2 separate regions of the Homo sapiens genome follow, and region 1 is linked to region 2. Evidence: fine-mapped expression QTL. A gene starts in region 2. The other region holds a variant in brackets. All regions are shown on one strand. Distances are from middle to middle. Region 1 overlaps AMPD3 (adenosine monophosphate deaminase 3). Region 2 holds the start of AMPD3 (adenosine monophosphate deaminase 3).

Region 1 (11,168 bases), 45 kb after region 2:
ATGCGCTGGATCATCCAGGTGCCCCGGATTTAGTAAGTGAGGTGGCCCGCTGTCTACCCTGTGCCCTACAGAGGTGACAATCTGTCCCTCATGGGCTGCTGAGTCTGCACTCCTGAGGGGTAGGGCCTGTTCTGGTGCCAGCTTACGCTTGTCCTTTCCAGGGATTTTTCCATAGAAGGAGTGATGAAAAAGATGTCTGCATGACACTAGAGCTCTTTTTTTTTTTTTTTTTTGAGACAGAGTCTCACTCTGTCACCCAGGCTCTGAGTGCAGTGGCATGATCTTGGCTCACTGCAACCTCCACCTCCCTGATTCAAGCAATTCTTTGCCTCAGCCTCCCGAGTAGCTGGGATTACAGGCACCCGCCACCACGTCTGGCCAATTTTTATATTTTTAGTAGAGATGGGGTTTCACCATCTTGGCCAGGCTGGTCTTGAACTCCTGACCTCGTGATCCACCTGCCTCAGCCTCCCAAAATGCTGGGATTACAGGTGTGAGCCACTGCATCCAGCTGACACTAGAACTCTTGATCTTTGAAAAATATAGATGTGCAAAGGCCTTGGGGGAACTACTACCCCCGCCTTCTTCTCATTGTGGGTTGAGGATGGATTGTCCTTTTGGTGAGCCCCAGGGTATGGGGAGAGCTGTAGTGGTCTACATTGCTGGCCTCTCCCTGGATGTCACTCAGACGGCTGCTGTCCTCTCCAGGCGGCTGGCCAGGGTGGAGCCCATGGCTCCAGGATGGGCTGGGGTATGTGGTTTAGGGAAACAGAGCTGAGTAACAGAATGTTTGGGTCACTGGGAATTTGAGGATTCATATCTCAGTCTCTTGGTCAGCCAGAATGCCACCATCCCATTCCTAGTGGCTTCTGGCTTGAGAAAGTGCTCTGATGGGCATGGGTAGGTGTGGAGCTTGCAAACCAAGGCAGAATATTGCAGACATTGCTGGGAGAGGAGGACAGAGGAGGGATCTGTTTTCTGGTCCCATCTGACTTGATTCTGGGTGTTTGATGGGGACACAGGGTGCCTGAGGAAGTGACTGGGGCTGGTCTCTGACAGGGCAGCAGGCTGTTGGATCCACCTGACAAGCGAGTCTTTGCTGTCCCCCAGTGACATATTTAGGTCAAAGAAGCTGCTGCCAAACTTTGGGAAGATGCTGGAGAACATCTTCCTGCCCCTTTTCAAGGCCACTATCAACCCCCAAGATCATCGAGAGCTTCACCTCTTCCTTAAATATGTAAGTGTGGGTGGTGCCCTAGGCAGGGCTCATAGCGGCAGAGGCAGGAATGGATTCGCTGTGAGCTGGGTCAGGCTTGCTCCTGCCCTTCACGATGGTATCTTAGGTCCTGCCACCTGTGTTCCAGGCGTGGGGTCACCAGCCCCAAGAAGCTAGATTTCTAAAAAGTCCCCTTCTCCTCAGGGGCAGCTCTGGGAGTCAGTGGGTGTGGGGGGATGGGGGTGGTGGTCTTGGGGTAGGCCTTTCCCCCAGCAGGGAAGGCAACAGTGGGCAAAGACTGGGAACTCGGTTCCTGCCAGGTGGGGCTGGAAAGGCTGGATCTAGCCCCCGGCAGCACCAAGCAGCAGCCTCAGGTTTTTTTTTCGGAAATGCAAACACTTCAATTCACCTGCTTTACCTCGCAACAGAGGCCCTCACACCATGTGTGATTAAGTACAAGCCCCTAAAGTGTATTTCCCTTCCGGATCCAGTTGTAGGAGAAGGAGAGGAGCAGTCTGGGAGAGGCTTAACCAGGGAGGGAGGCGGAGGGGGCGGGAGCCGGTCCCACCCTCCGGATGCCTGGGATCGAGGGGGTATCAGATGGTGATACAGGCCAGTGCCTGGTGATGGATGACTTTCTACAGGGAGAGGCACAGCGGGGAGCCCGAGGGCTGGGGCACGGGGAAAGAATTGAGTCTGTGTGCCCAGAAAGTGACTGGACAAGCTGAGGGACATCATCAAATTTATGTTTTAGACAAACATATTCTGGCTGTTGTGTGGAGTTGGCCCAGAAGAGAAGGTAGCTGGAGGTGGGGGCAGGGGTGAGAGTCAGGGGCCTGCCTGGAGACAGGAGGGGAGCTTGACCCAGCGGAAATAGCTCACACTCGTGCGTGCTTCTGCCTGGCCTGGTCAGACGCCACAACGTGATCTCACCTAAGCCTCACAATTACCCCGTTACTATCACCATTTTGTTGTTAACAGTAAGCGGAATTATTATGTGCTTGGTGCGTGTTGGACACGGTGTTGAGTGCTCTCCCTGGATTATCTCATTTAATCCTCACCAAAGCCCTGTGAAGCTGCTAGCTTCAATTGACACACAAGGAAATTAAAACAGATCATAAAGCTAAAAGTGGCAGAGCTGGAATGCGTTTCCAGGCAGGCTGACTCCAGCGATGTACCCTGAACCCCTATTCTATGTTGCCTCCCAAGTGAGAATAGTAAGGTGCACAGCAGCTACCAGCTTGCGTCTCTGAGGTGTGGCAGCGCAGGGACTCTGCACAAAGTGTGGGGCTTGGTGAGAAGCGGTGGGCGTACACCTGGCAGGACCTGGACAGAGACTGAAGGAGGCACTGGGGGGAGTCTAGGATGCCTCCCAGGTGCCTGGCTTTGCAGGAGCATGGATGATGTGCTGTCCGAAGGTTGCTGCCAGCAATGGAGGAAGAGCAGGTATGGGGAGGAGGAGGAAGAGCAGGAGGAGGAGACAACGCATTTTGCACCCGAGGCTGTGGGAGATGCAGTGGTGAGGCCCTGCTTCAGCTGGATAGAGCTCTGAAGAGGGGCTGAAATTATCCGCATGCCAGGCCCCAGAAAGTTCGGGTGAAGTATGGAGCTAGTGAGCACAGAGCAGAGCTCAAGGTCCTCCCTGGCCCCCCAAACCCGTCTAGGGAGTGCTTAGGGTCATAGCAGGGACCCTGTCATTTCCTTTGACACACAGGGCTCTGTGACACGGAAGATTCTGGCCAAGCTGCCTTGCTCCTCTGGGCCTTTGCTGCCCCCATAGGAACAGGAGAGGCCAGCAGACCTGGCTGGGGTCTGGGGCGTGGGCTGGGAGCCCTCCAGTTTGGGCCAGTTGTGGATTAAGGGGGACAGTCTCTTTCTCCCATCTGCTATTCAGAGGCCCCTTTGCAAAGCACTGCCGTGGCCTGGTAGCAAGCCTCCCCTGTGCGCTGAGAGCCCGTACCCTCCATGCATGTGTTCTTGGTTGGGGATGACCCCTGGGATCAGCCAGAAGGCTCCAGTGACTCAGGAGCAGCCCCCCAGGGGTCCCAGCCAAGGTAGAACTGCAGTGGAAGGGTGGGGGTTTCCTGAGGCTACTCAGGCCCATCTCAGAGGGCAGCTCCCAGTGGGGATTGGAGAGCAGAGCTGCCTCCCAGGAGCCATGGCTTAGCCCAGCAAGGACCCTCTTATCTGTCTGTGAGGCAGCTGGCGGGTTTCTCCTGGCCACACCTGGACATGCCCTAGAGTATTCTCTACCTACCGCCCCAAAGAGTGCAGACCCAGAGCCCAGAACCTGTTTTTTTTGTTTGTTTGTTTTTTGTTTTTTTTAGATGGAGTCTTGCTCTGTCACCCAGGCTGGTGCGATCTCGGCTCACTGCAACCTCCACCTCCGGGGTTCAAGTGATTCTTCTGCCTTAGCCTCCTGAGTAGCTGAGATTACAGGTGCACGCCACCATGCCCAGCTAATTTTTGTATTTTTTTTTACTAGAGACGGAGTTTCACCATGTTGGGCAGGCTGGCCTCGAACTCCTGACCTCGTGATCTGCCCGTCTCCTCCTCCCAAAGTGCTAGGATTACAGGCATGAGCCATCATGTCTGGCCAAACCTGGTTTCTTGAGCAACTTTCTTAATTGCTTTGGCCCTGGTTTGCTCAATTGTAAAATGGGGCTGGCAGCCAACCCCTCCCTCCTGGGTTGCTCTGAATATGAATTAACTGACGTGAGTAAAGTGCTTTGAGCAGGGCTTGATGAGTGATGTGTACTAGGACCCTTTTCCCTCATCGCTTGTCGCTGCTGCTGATGGCAATGGCCACTCCTCCCTGCAGGCTGGCCTCGGCATAGCAGAGGGGCAGGTGGTGGCCATGGCTGCTTTGCCCTTCACCTGGCTTGGCAGTTTCCTCCACTGTCACCACCACCACACAGGGGCTTGGCACTCTCCTGTCTCACCTCCAGAGTACCTATGGAAGCTCCGAAGGGGCAGACCTTGGTGTTGTACCCACTTTTCATCCCTGGGAGGAATATGGCCTCAGGCAGGCCAAGGGGTCCCCAGCTGAGGTGTGAACCTGAGGGGCCCAGACCCACAGGCCTCTGGCAGCTATGAGCTCTGGGAGGCTGAACCGAGGCTGAGTCCTGGTCCTGCCTTGGCCTGGTGCTCAGGACCTCTCCTGCCCAGGTGACGGGGTTTGACAGCGTGGATGATGAGTCCAAGCACAGCGACCACATGTTTTCCGACAAGAGCCCAAACCCGGACGTCTGGACCAGTGAGCAGAACCCACCCTACAGCTACTACCTGTACTACATGTATGCCAACATCATGGTGCTCAACAACCTCCGCAGGTGCGTGAGGCCTGCCCTCGCACATGCTTGGGTTCATGTGTTAGTACATGCACGCATGCACACACATGCACACACACATGCATGTGATCCTTGTGTCCGTGTGCACCTGAACCAACATGCATGTCCATGTGCCCACACACCTCAAAACACACAGCACTTTCCAGCCTGCTATATGAGGCATGTCTCCACATGATCACACACATGCAAACATGCCCACCATAACACACATGCCAGTACAGACATATGTCATGTACAGTATGCAATGCAGCCACAGTCCACACGTGTCCACACATTTATATGTACACACACCAGGGCACACTCCACGTGTACCTGTACATCCCTGAGATAATGGAAGCATAGGACATGCTATCACACATGCACGGTCACTTACTGCCACACCAACAATGTCCACACGTGCATATTTTCGTTCAGCAAATCACTGCATCTGGCATGCGATAGGCATTGCCCTGGGCACTGGACAAATAACGGGGAACAAAACAGACTAAATCCATGCATGCCCTTACAGGCAGAGGCTCCTACCAATACGCACACAGACGAGGCACACGTGGCCAGGAGTTAGCTGCCCAGGGCAGCAGGACACTGAGCCATTCCCTTCCCTACAAGTCTTGCATCCCACTTTCCCCTGCTGGGCCCTGGGGTCTCTCTAGCTCAGCCTAAACTGGTGCTAGTTGGTGGGTGTGGAGGTTTCGAATGGGGTCCTGATTGAAAGAAATGGCCTGGCAGGGTGGAGGCAGTCCTGGGCTGAGCTTTTGGAGATGGGGGCTCTGGTTCTGGCTTTGCTACTGACCTGTTCAGTGGCATGGAACATAGACTTCACTCTCCGGGCCTTGGTTTGCCCATTTCCATAACACAGAGGTCAGACTCTGTGGTTTCTCATGGCCTTCCCTGCTCTGGAGTTCTACGAATGCGGGACACAAGGCCAGGAGAGGAATTCAGGAGAGTGGCTGGAGGGCACAGCAGGGTCTCTTTCTACTGCGAGGCCCACTCTCTGCCCGTAGAGGTGATGCTTCTTGGTTCTAAGGGGCCCCAGGGCCTGGACCTCTGCATTTTAGGAGGGGTAGTTTCCAGGGTGCACTGGGTCAGCACAGCTGACCATGGGTGGTCATTCCCCCCGGAGCTGGCCCTGAGCTGTGGCTGCAGGCCCCAGGCAGAGCCAACTGGGGGG[G/T]GCCTTCCTGATTCGGAAACCCCTTCTCTTACAGGGAGCGCGGCCTGAGCACGTTCCTGTTCCGGCCGCACTGTGGGGAAGCCGGCTCCATCACCCACCTGGTGTCTGCCTTCCTCACTGCTGACAACATTTCCCACGGGCTGCTCCTCAAGAAGGTAACCAGGTCACTCTCGGGAGCCCGTCCTGAGTGACTGCCCTGCCCTGGGCTCCTGGGAGGCTCAACCAGTGAGGCCAGAAGGCTGGGCCCTCTTCTGGGCTGGGATGTCTGTCCTTATCTTGGTTTTATTTTTAATTATGAAAGTAATATAATCAAACTCATCACAATTTTGATTTTCCAAAAACTGGAGAAATGGAAAAAAGCCAGCCCTTATGCTATTACATTAATAGAAATAGCCATTATTAGCTTTTTAGTATATCTAATTTCCATCTTTTATCCACAGCATATTTTTAATGTGTTTATTATCATAATGAACACAGAATTTGGTTCCTGCCTCGTCCCTTACTGTTGTATGACAAGCATTTTTTGATGCTGCAACGTAATATCTATGCTCCTTTTTCCAAAGGCTGTTGTTGGATGAAGGGTCTGCCACTTTGTCTGTAATTGACTCAACCAGTCCACACTAGTTGGGCACAGAGTCCATCCACCTTTTCACTGGTGTACCCTTGAGCTCTGTGCATACAGTCTTCTCCGTATTTTGGATCACTTTCCATTGGCACGATGTTTGATCAAAATGCTCCCTTTCCCTGATCCCGGTGAGGTGTAACCATGGGTCACATTTTTGGGTGGGGTGGGTGCTACAGTAGAAAACCACTCTATCCTGGGCAGGTCCACCCCTCCCATCCCTTCAGGGATCATCTCCCAGGAGCTGGAGTGTTTATAGTCTCAACCTGGCTGTTTGCAGTCAAAGCAATAAAACAGCTAGAGGGGGGCATCTTCTAGACTGGGTCCGTGCCTAGGAGAAAGGAGCTGAAGGTGTAGGCTGGAGTGGGCTGCCCTTCCTGCCCTGAGCCTTGCCTCCAGTTTGGAGCAAGAATGAGCACTTCCAACAGTGGGTAGAGGCACCAGGGAGGGCTGGCATGCAATGTAGGAATGAGATGAACAGTGGGGAAGGGGAGAGTGGGTCTGAGTGTCCTGGCTTCGAGGAACTCGGGTTGAGGACTTGGGCAGACATGGTTCAGACCCCTGGTTTCCACTGGTGAATGCTTCTTCCCTTCCTTTCTCCCTTCCCTTTTCCCTTCTCCCCTCTCTGGCACTTGTCACATGAGTTCGGTGGTTCTTTTGCAGAGTCCGGTATTGCAGTATCTCTACTACCTTGCTCAGATCCCCATTGCCATGTCTCCTCTTAGCAACAACAGTTTGTTCCTCGAATATTCCAAGAACCCTCTGAGGGAATTCCTACACAAGGGACTGCATGTTTCTCTTTCCACCGATGACCCCATGCAGTTCCACTACACGAAGGTAAGGACTTTGGGGTGAGGACAGTAGTGCTTCAGTAGGCACCAGTCCTAGCCTGTCCTCCCATTTCAGGAACCTGAGCCCATGGCTTAGTTCTGCTTTTGGGGTGGGGTTGGTGGCCCAGTGAAGGCAGGAAGGAAGCCACTGTTGGGGGAAAATTGTGCCATCCAGGAGCCCTTTCTTTGGGGTTCTTGAACCCTCAAAGGCACAATTTAGTATCTTTGCCTTCCTCTATTTTCTCTTTCTTTGACATTTATGAGCTCTGTGACCTTGGTAAAGTTATTAGATTTCTGGATCAAGTTCTTCTTCATCTGTAAAATGGAGATAAAATTTTCTCTGTCCCTACCCTGTAAGGATTCATGAAGATAATGAATCAAAGGTTCTAACATAGTGTCTGCATATATTCAAAATGGTTGCTACTTTTTAAATCAATGCTATTATAATTTCTACACTTTGGGTCTCTGGGAAAATAAAAGAGGAAGCTAACAGTGGTGTCATGCATGGGGACTAGCCGCAAGTATACCCAGCATGTTTTGATGGTGTCGACAAGACCAGCCATTGCTTAACAAAAACAGAAGCACCAGAGTCTTTTAGGACAGAGGTTCTCCAACCTCTTGGTCTCTGGACCCCTTTATACTCTTAAGAATTGAAGCTTTCAAAGACCTGTTGTTTATGTGGGTTATATCTACTGATATTTACCATGTTAGAAATGAATAAGAAATTTTAAAATATTTATTATCTCATTTAAAAACCACATCAATAAACCAATGAAATGTTACATAATAATGATTTTTTTTCTGAAAAGTAACAGTTTCCCCTGCCTTTGTTTTGCATTTTTAAGCCTCTTTAATGTCTTAATGGAAGTCAGCAGGACTCTTCTAGCCACTTCTGCATTCAATTTGTTTTTAATCAAAATATGTAAAAATAGAAATCTTGCCTCATGAAAATACATAATTGGAAAAGACAAGACCTTTCAAAAGGTCTTAGGACCCTCAGGGGTCCTTGACCTGTACTTCGAGAACTATTGCTCTAGGCTACAGCGGCAGTGGGGTGGGGAAGAGGTCACAGACGGCTTGTGATGAATAGACACTTCACATCCCAGAAGGGAAGCAAAACCACAGCTCAAACCCAGATCATTCTGGGATTACACCATTTTACCACTTATCCTATGATCACTTCTCATTTTTTTTTTGATGTTCCATCTCTGCTTTTAGTACTTTACTCATCTATCTATCTATCTATCTATCTATCTATCTATTTATCTATCTATCATCTATCTATCTATTGCAAACTTAAGAAAATAGTGTGTTAAAAAGAAAAGCTAGAGGGCAAGTGCTAAATGTGGCATGACTAGAGGGCTTGTCACAGGAGAGCAGAGACTGCCATCCCTGATGACTGGCACAGGGTTTCAACATGAGGTCTCAGTGCTGGTCAATGAATAAATGTAGAGGCGTGATTTTAGATCTCTCTTTGATAACCCATGATTTTACAGAAGAAAAGATCTTAGGCTTTGAAGGTGTGATGTTTGATGATCCAGGTGCCATTTAGTGAGGAAAAGTTAAACCCGCAGTGTCTGATGTTGTTAGCTTTGGACATGTGTGAACGATTGACATGGATATCCCCCCTTCTAATCCACATGCTTTGGGGGAGGATCTAGGAAGCACTTATGGAAGAATATGCCATTGCAGCTCAAGTGTGGAAGCTGAGCACCTGCGACCTGTGTGAGATCGCCAGGAACAGCGTGCTGCAGAGCGGCCTCTCGCATCAGGTATGGAGTGTGACGGTGCTGCCTGTGTCCCTCCTGGGAAGGCTGCCTGCTGTGTGCCAGGAGCCTTCCAGGCACTGGGGATCTGTGATGAACATAGCAGGCAGGGCCTCTGAGACACTCAGGCACAGGGAGAGAAGACGCGGCAGCCTCCTGTGTTTTCATGGCTGCTTCCTCACCCTTCTCAGACCTCTACGCCTCCTTGGAGAGGCCTTCCCTGATCGCCCATTCTAAAATAGCCACACACTTGCTATTATTCTCTATCCCCTTAATCAGTTTTTCTCCATACCATTTATTCCTGCTGATGTTTAGTTATGTGTTTTTCTGTCTTTCCCTCTAGCATGTAAGCTCTGTGAGGGCAGAGGTTTGTTCAGAATTATATCCCCGGGCCCTAGATAGTCCCTGGCACATAGCAGGCGCTCAATATTTCTTGAATAGATGAACAGTATCTAGACTGAATAAAAATCTAGACTATGGGACTCAGACATCTGTCATTTTTTAAAAAGCCTGATGAGGAGCTGGCACTGAGACCCATGTTCTGATGTACGTTAGGTCCCCCGACACCTCCCTGGGTGATGTCACTGGTTGGGAAGAGGTTGCATTAGGGGCTGTGCTCGTCGGATGATGATGCAGCAGAGTTAAAGGCTTAAGATTCTTTTCATGCGCAGTGTGGTGCCTTGGATTGGCCCTCCCCAGGAACATTGTCCTTGTCAGCTCTCAGGGGCTTCTTAATTAGAGTCTTACCTCCTTCCCCTTTGCCTTTCCCATCCCCAGCAGCTGCTGCAGACCTTATCTTTCCTCTCTGATCAAGGAAAGCACAGCCAGGAATGAAGGGCTGTCTGAGGATGACTGAGGTTGTCAGGGTGACATCCTTGAGGACACAGAGGCCAGCAGGAATTTTAAGAGTTCTGTGGGGATAAGATGTCCTGACCAAAGATCTGCTTCAGGGGGACTAGTCTGACTTGCTGTGACTGATGTCAAAGCTGCCCACATGGCTATAGAAAGTGAATCAAAAGTATATAGTTTCATTTGTATTTCTCTTGGTCCACAGGAAAAGCAAAAGTTTCTGGGACAAAATTATTATAAAGAAGGACCTGAAGGAAATGATATTCGAAAGACAAATGTGGCTCAGATCCGGATGGCATTCCGATATGAGACCTTATGCAATGAGCTCAGCTTCCTGTCTGATGCTATGAAATCAGAAGAGATCACCGCCTTGACCAACTAGGTCCAGCATTTGACATGCATTTTAACTTTTTGGTTCAATTTCAAGTCTGCTGTGGCTAATAGTGGTCAAGATTCCGAACTAGGACTTTCCTCTGTGAAGAGGATGCCTCTGAAGAAATTTTAAACTGGTGATTTTGGTTGCACTGCTCACTTTAAGAGTTAACATGCTCACTTGTTAGTATTTCTGAGTAACAAGATGGTGACTTCTCCTTGGGGATCTGGGAGCTGAGCACTTGTCTATACTTGTTCCTAATTTTCCAAGTATTTCTCTTGAAACTGCCAGTGCCTGAACTGTTGGGGCCAGGATTTTCCCTGGTCAGATGCCAAGTAACATGTGGTTTTCTGCCATACTTTTCTCCATTGGCCCAGGTAGGCTAATTGGTAGTTGTTCATTTCAGCCTCTGGATGGCTGGCTGCCTTAAACACAATCAATTTCAAAGCTCCATTTCATAAAGGGGCTACTTTGAAGGAGTTAAGATGGAAGACTTCCTTCTTGACAAATTGTGTTTTTAGTGAATTTCTTAAACCGTTTTATTTAGCCCTCCTTCCCTCTTTCTAGTTGGAAGCCAAATGTACTCATGAAAACAGCCACTCCTATTCTGAGTCTTGGTTTCTTCACCTAGAAAGTGAGGGTTTGGACTAGATGAGTGGCTTTCAGGGTGTTCTGTGAATCTCCTCATGAATACTTTAGGGTAGGGGAGGGAAGGGAGTGAGTGATGCTCAGGGGCTGTCAAAGTGACTGCGTTCATCAGTTTTACACTGGGGCTGCTACATAATATTTTCATTTGAACGAAGAACTTCAAAAAGCACAGGACTAGATGATCTCTGTTCCTTTTGGCTCTAATATGCTACAACTGTAGGCCAATTATCACTTTACCAATTAAGAGTTAGGCCAGATAAGTGAAATTTAACTTAAGGGCACACAGCTAATAAGTAATAGGCCTAAACTGGATTTCCTTATTCCAAATCCTGTCTTTTCCCCACTA
Region 2 (9,706 bases):
TCTGGCAGTCTGCTTTCTGCCCTTGATCTTCTGGTAGCTGCTTTGCCAGCAGAGCTGCTAATGGCTGTTGTAGGCTGGCAGAGGTCCCTGGGGAGAGTTTTGAGAGGCCTTGGAGTAGGAGAGGCTTGCTAACTAGGGTATCATTTCCCCAAACTGTATGTGGCTGAAAGCTTGATGGCGACACATCAGCAAAGGAGCTGGGTGAAAGCAGGCAGCACAAGGAGGGATTTTAGCATGGTCTTGAGCCCCTGTTGGCTTTCCCTCAGGATGCAGTGACCAACATTTGGCCATCTTCATGGAAAAGCTGCCTGCAGCTGGAACCTGCAGAGGAGAAATTCTTTCCCTGGCTGTGCAGCACTAAGGCCGAGTGTTAGTGGAGCCATTGAGCCAGACAGACAGAGCCTCTGTCACTTCACACCTCTAGGAGTGTTGACAGCAGGTCTGGGGTAGTTGGCCTGGCCTGGCTGCAGCTTCATGGGGCCTGGCTTGCTCTGAGGATGATGGTATGGGGCTGCCCTCTCTAGGAATAATGACACCTGCATAGGTGGTGGCTGGGAGACTCTTTGACCTCTCAGTCCCATCCTTAGCTCAGCCTCTGTCTTCTAAGGTTCTCCTAGCTCTCAGCTAGGTCAAGAAGCTCTTTGAGAGATGAGGTTTTTTGTAGTTGTTTTTTTTTGCCTCTACACTGACTGGATCACTCTTCAAATGGCCTCAAAATCTGTCTCAGGTCTTGAAAATGTCATGGGCAGATAACATGTAGCCTTCGGGTTAACAGGGAGATACCCTTTCTCCCCTAAAGCTGCCCATTGGCCTCCATGATTCTTCCACCAAGTATAATAATCTCTTAGTTCTTCTGTATGCTGGTTGCATATCTAGGACAACAGACAATTGCTTTGGGCTTTTGATTTGTAAGGAACTGACTGGGGCATGGGAGGATGAGCTCATGGCTGGAGTCCTGGCTGTGTACAGTCACCGAGAAGTACCATTCATAGGGGAGAAGGATGTTCCTCCTCCTGATCTGGCTTCACATTTAAATATGTTTTCCTTCTTCCTGCACCCAGGTAATAGAAACTTGGGAGAGTGCCAGGCACATGGTGGTGCTCAATAAATAAGGTTGAATAAAAGGATTCAGTGTCTAGATAAAACTTCATGTTCATTTTCCTAGTTCTTCTCTCTCGTATCTGATATCATAATGATGATGACAATGATGTTGGCAGATAATGCTTATAAAACACATACTCTATGCCAGGTACCAGTCTAAACACTTCACTTATGCTCATTGTCATGGCAACCTATGAGATTGGCTTTTTATTATCCACACTTCATAGGGAATAAAACCGAGCCACAGAAAAGTTATTTAACTTGCCCAAGGTCATACAACTAAGTGGTGGAACAGGATTCAAATGCAGGGAGTCTAGCTGGAGTTTTTTTTGTTGTTGTTTGTTTGTTTGAAATGGAGTCTCACTCTGTCACCCAGGCTGGAGTGCAGTGGCACAATCTCAGCTCACTGCAACCTCCACCTCCCGGGTTCAAGCGATTCTCCTGCCTCAGCTTCCCAAGTAGCTGGGATTACAGGCGCCCGCTACCATGCCAGGCTAATTTTTGTGTTTTTAGTAGAGATGGGGTTTCCCCATGTTGGCCAGGCTGGTCTCAAAACTCCTGACCTCAAGTGGTCTGGCCGCCTCGGCCTCCCAAAGCGCTGGGATTACAGGCGTGAGCCACCACACTCAGCCTGAGTCTACGTTTTTAGCCATACACTCTACTCATTCCTGAGATTGCCATAGGTGGATTGATCTATTATAAATAGCTAGTTCACTTGTTCATTGTTTTATGCATTCATTCATTCAACAAATACTTGCTGAATGTCGACCATATTTCAGGTATGGGGATACAACTGTGAATGAGACAGGCGAGATTTGTCATGGAGCTGGTATTTAGCAAGTGAATCCCCTTTGTCCAACTCCTTGTGTGAGTCACACACACCTCACAAATGAGAAGAAAAATGAACCCCTCTATGCAAGCTCATGCCTGGCTTTTGGGGAGGAGAGTGATATCTTTCTTTTTCTTTTTCTTTTTTTTTTTCTTGAGATAAAGTCTTGCTCTGTCGCCAGGCTGGAGTGCAGTGCAGTGGTGCAATGTCAGCTCACTGCAACTTCTGCCTCCTGGGTTCAAGTGATTCCCCTGCCTCAGCCTCTCAAGTAGGTGGGACTACAGGTGCGCACCACCATGCCCAGCTAATTTTTTGTGTTTTAGTAGAGATGGGGTTTCACCACGTTGGCTAGGATGGTCTCAATCTCCTGACCTTGTGATCCACCTGCCTCGGGCTCCCAAAGTGCTGGGATTACAGGCATGAGCCACCATGCCCGGCCGATATCTTTCTTGATGAGACATAATTTGATTCCGTCCTCTCCTGTCTTTTAGAGTTTGTAAGGGGTGCTTAAGTGATAAAAGGGGATGCAGTCTAGTCTCGGGCAGGAGAAGCGGGCCCTGTATCTGGTTATCATAAATTGTCTTGATGTTTGTTCGAAAGGGAAATAAGGCTTTGAGCTTGGGATCAGTGCTCTTCAGTCCACAGAGACATCTTGGCTGCAAGAAGCAGCAACAAGTTAGGCTCAAGGTGGAATTGTGAGGTCCTGAGAAGAGCTTGCTCTTCTGGGACAGAACTGTATTTTTCTTCTAAACTGCCCATGTTCTGGGGAGTCTTCCCGCCTTTTGGCTTCAGCAGGACCCTTGGTCATTGTTACAACCTGTGTCATCTTAGTGGAGCTGCTGCTGGTTTCTGTCTGAACCCGATGCAATGGGTCTCATACCTGTAAACTGGGCTCCAGGAAGGCAGCTTTCTCTAAGTTGGAAAATGAAGACTCAAGGTGGAGGGTGTTTCCCAAAGCCGATACCACAAGATATTAATAGGTGTTTTTTTCCTATGACAGCAGTTCTAGGATGGTCAAATAAGTGCGTCGGGTTAAACAAAGTTAAGCAGCTTTCTTTACTGCAGGACTTCTCAGGTGTTGAATTTGCTAGTAGAAACTGTGCATGAATACCCATAAGGGACTACAGGATGCAGTGTTTTCCAAGCCTTCTGACCTTTCATGTTCTGCAGACTGCACTTTGAAAAATGCTTGTTTAGACTAAGGCTAGCTGGGATCCGGTTAAAGGTGCAGAATAAAATTCCCTGAACGTGTCGGACTTAAATCCTTGGGCTGGAATCCTCCCACTGCAGTCCCCACTCTACCTCCCCTTTCCCCAAAACACTAGCAGAAAAAGTCATCTGCCCCTCCTCCTTCTGGCAGAATAGTACTAAGGGCTTGGATTTTTTTCTCATACTGTAAGTTCATTTAATTGTTTAATGAATAAATATTACCCTCCCTCTAGGTTGCTTGTAGCCTGCTGGTTGCACTGTTTATGAAACAGCTGTGAGGACAGGTGGGCCGTAATCTCTGGGTAGCTAAAGCCCAGCAGCAGCCCGAGGATCATGTGTCAACCCTGTAATACTGCTCTGTGCACACAGGAATTATGATGTGAGCTCAGTAAGACACAACCTCACGATTGGACATGCGGAGGTGACTCAGGCCCAAGTCAGGGTTACAGCTAGCCTCCCGGTAAACAACTGACCCATCCTTCCTGAGCTCTTCTCCCCAGGATTTCAACAGCACCACAGAAATAGCCATTTTGCTCATGGTTATTTCCCAGGACCACAGGATTTGCCTAAGTCACTGGGAGGCTATGTGTCTGTTCTGAGCCTTCCCACTCTCCTAAAGGGCAGATGAAGATCAGAGCTTTGCACCCTGTGATGCCATTTTAATCAACCCTGCTTGGTTTTAGAGGATTGCTCCTGTGGGTCACTTGAGGCAGGCTCCACCTTCCCCAGGAGGAGTGGCAGAGTCCAGCCAGCGCTCGGAGCTGGAGGCCCACGTGGGAGCAGTGAGCGGCTGTAAGCAGGGGAGGGTTTGGGGTGGGCTCCGGTGGGTCAGTTGGGGTGTACTCCTTTTCTGTGTGTGTGGATGGGGGTGGGGGTTCTGGTAAAGCTTATCAGGCTTCGCAGTCACCTGTGATGTGGGCTTCCTTCTGGGAAGAAAGGAAGGAGTGGGATGGGGCTGTCAGCTTTTCATCCTAGCCTGCCCCTGTCCTCTGTCCGCCTCTGTGCTGAGGCAGTTCCTGCTCCCTGAGTCTCTGTCCTTTCCTGGGAAAGGTGGAAGCAGTTCATGGTCTTTCCCTTTCAGAGGAGGAGGGGATGGAGGGGATTGTATTAGCAACTGGGATTGAAGCTCCCCCTGGCAGTTATGGGGTGCCCTTGGGAGGGCTGCTTTAGGGGGGCTTTCTGAGAAGAGGCAGGTCGGGCTGTACCTGAGACCAATCCCCTTGATAAAATGCAGCCAGGCCTGAAGCACGTTCAGAACGGAAGCAGCAAAGGTGATGATATCGCTCGTTGCTACTCAGCTTTCAGGAGGAGGCTGGGCGTTAGAGGGAGGCTGTGGCTTATCTCCTGCAGCTGGGCAGGACGGCTGAGTTTACTGTTGTAAAGAGGAAGCCGCCGCTTTAGTTTCCTCTTGTGAGGGCTGTGAAGAGGGCCAGGACACTGCATTCAGGATACCACAGCCATTTTGTTTTGGATAACTGGGATTACCTGGGGACTTCAGGGCTCTTGGAAATTTTCCACTCATATTTCATATTCACGAGAGAATTTCCAGCCCAGGCTTTTCCTGCTCTGGCTCACTGCTGCTCACAGATATGCAAAACAGAGACCTCCTACTCCAGCCGGCAGACAGGACCCAGCCAGCTGCACGCACGCACTGACTCAGCTGAGCCTCCTGGGTGGCAGGCAGCACCTCACCCGGGTGCATCACTTGAGTGGCATCTTCAGGACCAGTCATGGAGCCAGGCTCAGGTCTGTGTCGGGGCTTCTGCAAGGGGAGTCTGGCAAGAGTAGGAACCAGCTTCCTTCGTATAACGAGGGGATTTCAGTGGCACTGGGCTTCCTTTCTGGAGGGACTGTGGCACCATGAAAAGTTACTGTTTGTTGAAACTGGCAGTGTTTTAGAACTTTCTAACTTTGGGACACTTCTTCAAGTTCATCAGAGCGTGTTGCATGTAACAGTGAGATAAGCTGTATCATTGGCTGACTGATGCTGGTGAATTCACAGCTAAGCCTCCCAAGCCTGCTGGCTTCAGCTGACAAAGGGTTGGAAGCCAGGCGTGAACATGCAGCTGGAGCTGAAGCTCTGCTTGGCATCTGCAGAGTGAGCTTTCCTTGTCAGGCCTGGCCTGGCAGGTGTCTGGAGGGTCTGAGAGGAGAGACACTCTGGAGGGACGGGTTGGCAGGTGGGAGCTGTCTGCCAAGGACATCCAGAAGGCAGCAGATGTGGGGGCAGCTGCTAAGGCCTGCAGCACCCCAAGTGGGTTACTTGGTCCATACTAAGATATGGAATTAATTATTTTGTTGTGGTTGCTGTTGTTTCTTGCTTTTTTTTTTTTTTTTTTGAGAGAAGGTCTTGCTCTGTCACCCAGGCTGGAGTACGGTGGTGCCATCATGGCTCACTGCAGCCTGCACCTCCAGGACTCGAGCAATTCTCCCAACTCAGCCTTCCAAATAGCTGAGACCACAGGTGCATGCCACCACACCTGGCTGTTTTTTTTTCTATTTTTTGTAGAGATGAGGTTCTGACATATTGCACCAGGCTGATCTCGAACTCCTGGCCTCAAGCGATCCTCTTCAGCCTCCCAAATTGCTTGGATTATAGGCATGAGCCACTGCACCCGGTCTTGGAATGAATTATCTACCAACTATTTAAGACACTGGTAGTAGTTCTGCGGAAGATTTTTATGGGTTCTGTAAAACAAAAAGGGTTCTGTATGTTAATGTTACTCTATGATCCTTGATTTTAATGAGCCTTATGAATGTGAGTTGAGGGGCTGTGGAATGCAACATCTCCCAATAACTGACCACAGGACCTGTTTTACCAGCAACAGGTATCAATTTCTTATGGCATCCAGTTTGGGAAAGGTTGATTTAAGCTAAAGAGAAAGGAAGATATGTTATAGAAAGCTGTGTCCTGAAAAGTATTTTTAGTTGATTAGAGCAAGCTAAAAATGCTTTGTGCGCTGGTATGATGGCTCACACCTATAATCCTAGACCCTGGGAGGCCAAGGCAGGCGGATCACTTGAGACCAGGAGTTCAAGACCAGCCTGGCCAACATGGTGAAACCCCATCTCTACTAAAAATACAAAAATTAGCCAGGCATAGTGGTGTGTGCCTGTGGTCCCAGCTACTCGGGAGGCTGAGGTGGGAGAATCACCGGAGCCTGTGAGGTCGAGGCTGCAGTAAGCTGTGATTGTGCCACTGCACTCCAGCCTGGGCAACTGAGACCCTGTCTCTCAATCAATCAATGAATAAATGCATGCTTCATGAGCAAACATGGCAGGATCTGGCATAAGAGCCCTCAGACATCAAGGACTTCCCTCCCACCCAAATACCCATTGCCAAGGGAGCCTGGTTGGGGGTGTCTGGGTCAGGCCTGTGTGTGTCTGAGGGCATGAAGGAGGTAGGAAGGTGCTGCTGGTGGTGGATGGCTTCTGTCCAGGGTAGGAGCTAACACAGAGATAGGTCTGAATGGTGAAACTCCCTTTGGCCTGGCCTCTCAATAGTGTGGGTTAGGCTGATCTTGAACTCTTAGCCTCAAGTGATCCTTCCTCCTCAGCCTCCCAAATTGCCTGGACAACATGGCAAAACCTCATCTCTAAAAAAAAAAAAAAAAAAAAAAATTAGCCAGGTATGGTGATGCTCCCTCCCTCCCTCCCTTCGGCAATTAAGGAGGGAGCCCTAATTGCCAAAACCTGCCAGAAAAAGAAGTTTGTTTTCCTATTTTTCTCTCTTTTCATAGAGTCTTAAGTCTACTCATTTTCTTTCTATTCTCTTTGTATTTGTTAAAAATGGCATTATAATAGCATTCATCATCAAAATAAAATATCCTCTCACACACAGGCAGCCCTGCCACCTGGTCATTTTGACTGCGTGAATCTCTTGCAGGTCTTGCCCATAAAGGGATGCATTTTCCTTTCACTGTAAATAAAGCATGGGTATGGTTCTATGTATTAATTTTTTCATTTACTGTATTTTTATTTTTTTATGTGATTGCACCATCCTCATAATCATAATTCTGATTACTTAACATCTTTTTCAAGTGAGTATGCTCTAATTTAGGCATTTTAAAGCTATTTATGTAAATAATGCAGGTAAATATCCTTGTGCTTTTCATTCTTAGGATTCTTTTTTTGAAAGAAATTTGTAGAAGTAAAGTTGCTTAGTCAAATGGTATGGTGCTTTATGGCATTTGCGGCCTTTTGCCTGGGCTGTTGGGTTGCATATCTTCTTCTGAGATGCGATGTGAGGTTTTGGGATGGTGCCCTTGATTGGTGGCCTTGGAATAAGGGGGGAGGTGAGGATCCAGTTTCGTTTCAGCCTGATGGAGCCTCCTGGGTCTGGTTCTTTGTGCTGTTCCAGACTTTCTCTCCCCTGTCACCTCCTTTGATGGCCTCCAGCTTCCCCCCTCTCTGCTATCAAGACATGGAAATCCCCACAGGCAGCTCTGTTCCTCTTCCTTTTTGCAGAGGCCAGGCCTCGCTGTCTTGATGTCTGCTCCCCAGACAGTTGTGTGTTGACAGGCTGTTCCCCACCAGCTCCCTCCCACTCCTCTCATCAGGGAGTGGCAGGTCCTTGGGTCTCAGAGTTAAGGGAGCCACAGACCTCACTCTGATTGCCTGTTGCTAGCCTGCTTTCTTCCTTCCTGTCTGTGTCATGACTTAGTCCCACATGCCACTCAGACTCAGAGCAGCAAGCCCTCCTCAGGCACCGGAAATCTCTCTGGTACCTAGAATTATGCCACTTAGAGCTGAGAGGGCCTTAGAGACCACTTAGTTCAATCCCTTTATCTCACAGATGAGAACATTGTGAGGCCGGAGAATGACTGTCCCAAGATGGCCTAGTGTGTTCCCCTCCCCTGTAGCTGCACTTCTCCCTGCTGGACAGCAGCAGGGCTCTGTCTCATCTCCATTCTTGTCTGTCTGGTCCACAAAACCACTTCTCTCTTTAAACCAACTTTAAAGAAACTGTGGTCATAGGTAGATGGGAAACTCCTCTTCCAGAGCTGCTCCCAACGAGGGTGGCTTGTCGAAAAGGGTGCAGTATTAATCCATTCCACAAGTGTTATGCTGGGGACTGTGAGGAGCCCCTGCCCGGACACATACGTGGACAAAGAGAAGCAGCACAGCATGGTGGGTGAGGGGACAGAGGCAGGAACCAGGTGCCTGGGTTCAGATCCCTGAGCTGAGGATCAGAGAGGAAAGGGATGAGAGAGAAAGGCTGAGAACAGCACAAATCTCTGCTGACTTATTAAAAGTGTGACCCTGGGCATGTTAGCTCTCTATGCCTTCATTTTCTCATCTGTCAAGTGGGAATAATAAGATTAACTGAGTTAATAAGTATGAAGTTCTTTGCAGAGTATATATATGTATGTATACATATATAAAATATATATTATATATAATATATATTATATATAATATATATTTTATATATATATATATATTTTATTTTTAAAATTGAGACGAGGTCTCACCCTGTCTCCCAGGCTGGAGTGCAGTAGTACGATCATAACTCACTGCAGCCTCAACCTCCCTGGCTCAAGAGATCCTCCTGCCTCAGCCTCCCTAGCAGCTGGGATTACAGGCATGCATCACCATACCTGGCTAATTCTTTAAATCTTTTTTAGGGATGAGGTTTTGCCATGTTGTCCAGGCTGGTCTCAAACTTCTGGGCTCAAGCAGTCCTCTTGCCTTGACCTCCCAAAGTGCTGGTATTACAGGCGTGAGCCACCACACCCGGCCCCAGAGTATACTTTTTTTTTTTTTTTGAGGCAGAGTCCCACTCTGTTACCCAGGTTGGAGTGAAGTGGCTCAATCTTGGCTCATTGCAACCTTCACCTCCTAGGTTTAAGCAATTCTCTTGCCTCAGCCTCCTGAGCAGCTGGGATTACAGGTGCCTGCCACCACGCCTGGCTAATTTTTTTGTATTTTTAGTAGAGACGTGGTTTTGCCATGTTGGCCAGGATGGTCTCAAACTCCTGACCTCAGGTGATCTGCCCGCCTCAGCCTCCCAAAATGCTAGGATTACAGGCGTGAGCCAATGCGCCTGGCCAGAGTGTACATATTAAGTGCTATACAAGTAATTGCAAAAAAGGAAAGAAATAAGGAAATGAAGAAAGCAAGCAAGCAAGAATGAAACCCAACCAACCAAGCAGGTGGTTGAGGCCAGTGACTGTTAGTAAGGAATCAGTATGCGAGGAGGTGGATAGAGAAAGCTTCTTTGAGGGAGTGAGTTTTCAGCTGGGTAAAGAGTGTTCTAAAACCTTTATTTTATTTGCTGTGTCTTGTTAGGAGGTTCCAGAGGGTTTGGAACTGCAATAGCAGATTCTTTCTCTTCAGCAAAAGGCCTTGATTTATGTAATGAAGAATGCAGCTTTGGATTTCCCAGGGCTCTGCTGTAATCTTGTGCGACCTTAGCTGTTAAAGCCTCTGTGAAGTGGGGGAGTGAGGTTTGATTATTGTTGCAGCTATAACAGTATCCTCATAGTCTGGAGGAGGGAGAGCTGAACTCTCTCTTGTCCCTTCTCAAACATGGGAACAAAGTCAGGAGGGCAGGGCTGCCAGGTG

Evidence for each region.
Region 1: its variant is fine-mapped to the expression of AMPD3 in whole blood (INTERVAL, PIP 0.94).

What each region holds. Positions count from the first base shown.
Region 1 is chr11:10,495,702-10,506,869 of GRCh38, forward strand. AMPD3 (adenosine monophosphate deaminase 3) reads left to right here. Exons shown (of 15, transcript NM_001025389.2): 9 at 1-32; 10 at 1,111-1,237; 11 at 4,385-4,548; 12 at 5,769-5,889; 13 at 7,020-7,193; 14 at 8,848-8,958; 15 at 10,007-11,168. The coding sequence ends at 10,183. Among named protein-coding and RNA genes, the nearest start is that of MIR4485, 7.0 kb to the right of the region's middle. RefSeq lists an enhancer at 4,368-4,961. The variant G/T (reference allele first, on the strand shown) is at 5,735.
Region 2 is chr11:10,451,518-10,461,223 of GRCh38, forward strand. AMPD3 (adenosine monophosphate deaminase 3) reads left to right here and starts at 3,747. Exons shown (of 15, transcript NM_001025389.2): 1 at 3,747-3,931. RefSeq lists enhancers at 224-353, 4,622-4,671, 7,471-7,600.